2 separate regions of the Homo sapiens genome follow, and region 1 is linked to region 2. The links come from fine-mapping of genetic effects on gene expression. Tissue or cell type: breast. Region 2 holds a variant in brackets; the other region holds the start of a gene. All regions are shown on one strand. Distances are between the middles of the regions.

Region 1 (2,754 bases), 25 kb after region 2:
CCGGCTCTCCTCCCTTCCAAGAAAAGGAGCTCAGGGGTAAGAACAAGGGATTACAATCCGACTCGGAGACCCTGGCGGTGGCCTGGACCGGCCAAGCGTGGTGAACTCCAGGGAACATGGGCACACAGTGTAGGGGCTGGGATGAGTGGATGAGGGAAATCCGACTCCTCTCAGATATCCACAGGCAGGACAAGGTGGCCAAGGCCGAGCTGATGGACAGCATGGCGGGAGGCCTGGGGCAGAGGCAGGGAGGGCCGCTTTGGGGTGCTCACTGGTGCTCCAGGAGGGCTTTATCCTGCATCTTCACTCCATCCAGGCCCAGCTTACCTACAACCCGGGGGAGTGGGGGTAGGAGGGTGTTAGATGTGTAGCTTGAAAACGACAATAAAAAGGACTGCTGGGATCGGGTGCCTTTTCTTTCAGTCCCAGCCCACGGGCTTCACAAAACGCCACAGCACTGACTCTGAAATCTGGACTTCAAATTGGCTGAAAAAGAAAAGCCAGCTTTCCTCCCTCGCCCCCCGAAAGTCCTACTTTTTAAACATCAAGATAACTCTCATGGCAGGCCTGGAAATAAGCCACAGGCACGTGGATTTGGGAACCGGTGGGCGGGAGGGGTCAGAAGTGGGTGAGGAGCAAAATTCCAAGCCCTGGTCCCGAGGCCTGGGAGCCAGCAGCTGCGGAGCACGCCCTGGGCTGGGAGAGGCCGAGGGGAGGGGAGAGCAAAACACCTCCAAACAAACTCCTTCGGGCTCGCCCCTCGCCACACTTTCTGGGGGAGGGCGGCGAGTTTGCGGGGCTGCGGCTTAGCATGGCGGGACCTGCATTTCCTGCGGGCCGCGGGTTCTGCGCTTCCTGGGGGCAGCCTGGGCTGGAGGCCGCGGCCCCGCTCCCTGGCTCGGCGGGGAACGGCAGCGGCAGCCGGAGCCCCGGGGGTGGGGAGGGGGCCGCGAGGGCCCCGGTGCGTACCTGCCTCGCCTCCACCGCCTGCTCCTCCGCCTCCGCTGGCGCCGCCGCGGGATCCCCTGGCCCTTCGGGCTCCCCCGGTCCCGCAGGCTCCCCGAGCTCCCCCAGCCCCGCGGGCTCTCCAGGCTCCTCCGGCCCCGCGGGCGAGGCCGCCGGCTCGGGGGCGCAGGGGCGGGACGGCGCCGGGGCCCCGGTGGCCTCGGCCGGGGGCGCGGGTTCCGGGGGCGCGCGGGCAGGCTCCGGGCTCGCGGCCGCCCCACGCCGCACCAGTAGCCAGGCGAGCAGAAGGGCCAGCGCGGTGGCCAGCGCAGGCAGCGCGGCCAGTAGCTCGGCCGGCGCCTCCATCGCGCCGCGGCCGCCGAGTGCGGGCCAGCTGGGACCCCGAGGGAGCCCGCCGCGCCCCGTCGCCGCGCCCGGTCGCCGCGCCCCGCCTCGGGGCGGAGCCCCCATCGCCGCGCCCCGCCCCCGCCCCCTCCGGCCCCGGGAGGGTGACGCACAGGCTGCGGGCGGGGGTGTTGAGGGGGCAGAGCCCTGACCACCTGGGAGGCACAGGAGGGCCAACCCCTGCCCGGCCTGGGCAGCCTTGACGCTTTGGGGCACAATTTAGCTCAGGTTCAATTTGAAATACTGTATGAGGTGCCCTTAGGTTGTCATCTTTGGCCTTAGTACGGCGGTTCGTCTTAGAGCATTTTGGAAATGTGGGAATGCAGAGAGACAAGCAAACCCGGGAAGCTTCATGGAAACGGCAGCCTGGATTGGCTTGTAAAGCAATCATAATGCCGGATTACGTTCAGCCACTGCCGTTTTTATAGGCATGTCAGGAGTTGCTTTTAATCCTCAGGGTTGCCTTAATGCACTTTCACAGAGGACATCTCCAGATCCCGGCCAGTGAATGCTCCCTTCGGAGCTGAGGCCAGCAGCCTTCAACACAGGCCTCCCTGTTAACAGTAACATGGCTCCCCCGCCCCTAGACCTGAAATTCAGCTGCAGGTCCTTGGTCAACGCTATTCCTCTTACCAGACTTTCTTCTTTGCACAATTCCAGAATGCATGCAGGGTGGGAGGGTACAATGAAGGAAATGAAGGCTATTGTTTTTGTTTCTCCAGATCCTCCCAGGCCTCTGTTGCTGAACAGTGGATTTTGAGATAAACACGTTGTAACCAAAAACATACTTTCCTACCACTCCCCACCCACTCTTTAGTTATTTTAAATAAACACAGGACGGGCATGTCAGGTATCACGCCAAACATAAGGCCTAATGTTAAAAAAAACACGGTTCCAGTTTTTGCTGAGGATGCCTTTAATACTTTTTTGGGAATATTACAGTGCCTGAGCTGATCTGTGATATAAACCAGATATTAGATGGAGTGCTTCTTTTTAAATGAAGATACACAAACGAGACCCCTCAGCAACAGGGAGAGCTGAATTCTGCTGCACTGCACGATATTAAGCGGGCCATGCACTTCCTTTTAGTGGTGGTTGATGAAAAGAGCCTATAAACTATAAAATGTGAAATAGGCTTTATCTACGGGCGACTAGCTTTTAACCACTGTGGAAGTTTCAGCCAGTGTATGGGCCTATTTTTTTTCTTTTGAGATGGAGTCTTATTCTGTTGCCCAGGCTGGAGTGCAGTGGCGCAATCGCGGCTCACTGCAACCTCCACCTCCCGGGTTCAAGCGAAACTCCCACCTCAGCCTCCTGAGTAGCTGGGATTACAGGCGCCCACCACCATGCCCGGCTAATTTTTTTCTGTTTTTAGTAGACAGGGTTTCACCGTGTTGGCCAGAC
Region 2 (2,754 bases):
GCTTGGAAAATGGCACAGCTACCACCTAGACTTCTGCTTTAACCAAAGGACTCCAGGCCACGCTGCAGAAGGGCAGCAGTGTGGGTGAGCACCAGGAGCCTGCTGCGCCTGGTGCAAAGGACTGTCCCTCTGCTGAGACCTCCCCAGCTGTCCCACTGTGCCCAGCGCACCCCTTCCCCGCCCAGCAGGATGGTGTGGAGGGAAAAGGTGGCGGGGTGCCCAGTGGCTGTGCAGGGGGTGTCCAAATGGGAAGGGGGAGCCAATTCCAACAACGAGAAGCCATAGCTGCACTGCCCGGAGCTACAAGGCGCTGCTGCAGGCGCCGGCCTGGGAGGCCGCTGAAGGATGAGCACCAAGAATCCGCTGTGTCCCGAAGGAGAAATGGAGAAATCAGCTCTGTTGGGGACTGTGTGTGTGAGTGACAGCCAGGTCTGCTCCAGGCTCTTTCCTGGCATCTCATTTCTTTAGATGGGGGCAGTGGGGTGTGGAGGGGGTGGGGGGGTGCAGTAAATGGGCTCTGTATCCCCCATCACCAGTGGCCTCCTTCTGGTCAGTGCCAGGGAGGGGTGCCAGGGGTGTGCGAGCCTGGCTGACCAGGGCAGGAAAGAACTCCTAAACTGGGAAGGTGGGGCGGTGGTTGGGCAGAGCGTGTAGGAGCCCCACCTCCTTTCTGGGCCCTTCTGCCAAGGGGCAGGAACATGAAGGGCTCAGAGGGGCACCCCCCTCCCCCAAGAGCCCGCCAGGCGCCAGCGAAGGGGCTGCAGCCTACCTCTGCTCCTCCTCCAGCTCCTCTTTGGTCATCATCTTCTTGTACTGGTTTCCCCTCAGCTTCCCGGGGCTGTATTTGAAGGAGAAGCCTTCTCCTGTGGAGGGGGGACCCAGTAAGTGCCAGGAGTGCTGTAGAGGCTGGCCCCACAAACCCCGGCCCCCTTTCCCTAGGTTTAAAAAGAAACACCTCAAGCAGAGGCCACATCTGGCTATCAGAGACATCTCACCCCAGCGCCTATACCCCCTCTCGTTCCATAGCTTTCCCTTAAATCCTACAACGAG[A/G]CAGCCAGAGAGAAAGCAGTCCTACTCCTAGTCCACAGCTGTCTCCAGATGCCACATCCCTCCCAACATCTGCAGTGCTCTGCCTTGCCCTGGCCCTGCCCAGCAGGTCCTCTCGGCTACTGAGCTCAGAGGCGACAACTCCGGCAAGCAGAGCACAGCTCATCTTGGGACACACACCACGCCTGCCTGGGCTTGGGGAGGCTTGTGTCATCCCCCCACCCCCTGTGGCTATTGGAAATCTGAAAACACGCATCCAGGCAGCCCACAGTGGCCAGGCCAGGGATGCGGGATTTGCTGCAGCAGGTTTGACGTGTGTACCGCTGAAGAGGCAGAGCCCGATTTGCCAGTCCCCGAGGGGAGACCCCCCATTGCTGCCTGCAAAAAACGGACAGATCTCGAGGCCTGAAGAGGGCACATGGATGGGTAGGTGGTGGGCACAGAGGAAGCCAGGACCTGTGGCCTGGAGTGGACACAGGCTCCGGGCACATGAGCCACGGTGAGGAGAGAAAAGCTGAGCTTCCAGAGGGAAAAGCCCCATGGGGGAGCAACCTCTTGGTTCCTGAATCCAGCAGGTGTCGGGCAGAGCTGGCTGGCCTCTTATCGACCTCCACTAACTAAAGGACCCAGTGAGGGAGGCATAGAGAGATCCTCAGCTGCTATTCTGGAAGTGCTGCCCTCTCTGTCCCTCCATATCCTGTCCAGCAGCCCGAAAAGCCAGGCCCCTCCCCTCTAGCTTGCAGCCTTCATGCTACCGGATAGGCTGATGTGGACCGATGGGGAGGCGGGGGGGCTCTCAGGGTGAAAGGAAGAAGGTTCTAGATGCGAATTCAGAACCCAAACATCTGGTTGGGTGTGGTGGCTCATGCCTGTAATCCCAGCACCTTGGGAGGCCAAGGCAGGTGGATCACTTGAGGCCAGGAGTTCGAGACCAACCTGGCCAATGTGGCAAAACCCCGTCTCTACTAAAAATACAAAAAATTAGCCGGGCGTGGTGGCAGGCGCCTGTAATCCCAGCTACTCAGGAGGCTGAGGCAGGAGAATCGCTTGAACCCGGGAGGCAGAGGTTGCAGTGAGCCGAGATCGCGCCACTGTACTCCAGCCTGGGCAATAGAGTAAGATTCCAGTATCCCCCTACCCCCCAAAAAAAGAAAACATACAAAATCCTGCCTTGGTCCCAGTCTTAGGTTTCAATTTATGGGGCAAGTCTGATTAGTTTTGTTTTCTGAGCCAGACAGAACAAACGACTTGAAAAGGATTTCGCTCAGTCACATGCAGTGCACCAGGCAGCGCATCCAGTTTTGCTAGACCAGAATTCAACGTGACAGCCTCCGAGGGACGGGGGAGGTTTCTTCCTCCAGTCTCCTGTGAATTCACCTAGTCGCTCAGGGAAGTCATTTTAGCGACACTAATAATTAACCTCTGAGGCTGCCTCGTACTGCAGAGGGGCTGGAGGTGCTCACACATTCTTCCAACAGCTGGAGCCATAAACCTTTCCTTTCCCTGCCTTGCTAGAGATGGCAGGAGGCTAAGATGGCAGGAGGCGCTGGGGGTGGGGGATGTTCAGGAGCAGCGGTGCAGATAAGGGGGGAGGCTGGTGACAGTGCTGGGGGACTGTGCCCTCTGGCAGCTATGCCAGGGAGAGGGGTCTGCGAGCCTCTCTCCTTGTCCTTGCCAAAGGGCCTCCCTCCCGTGTCCCCAAGTCAC

What was found. PIP is the estimated chance that this variant, and not a neighbour inherited with it, causes the effect.
Region 1: it holds the start of MXRA7, and the variant in region 2 is fine-mapped to the expression of MXRA7 in breast (GTEx, PIP above 0.99). The same link has a PIP of 0.9 or more in whole blood.

The regions. Positions count from the first base shown.
Region 1 is chr17:76,709,636-76,712,389 of GRCh38, forward strand. It overlaps MXRA7 (matrix remodeling associated 7), which reads right to left and starts at 1,330. Exons shown (of 4, transcript NM_198530.4): 1 at 970-1,330. The coding sequence starts at 1,311. RefSeq lists a silencer at 1,352-1,561.
Region 2 is chr17:76,684,303-76,687,056 of GRCh38, forward strand. It overlaps MXRA7 (matrix remodeling associated 7), which reads right to left. Exons shown (of 4, transcript NM_198530.4): 3 at 770-863. Among named protein-coding and RNA genes, the nearest start is that of MXRA7, 25 kb to the right of the region's middle. RefSeq lists enhancers at 1-311, 2,294-2,754. The variant A/G (reference allele first, on the strand shown) is at 1,051.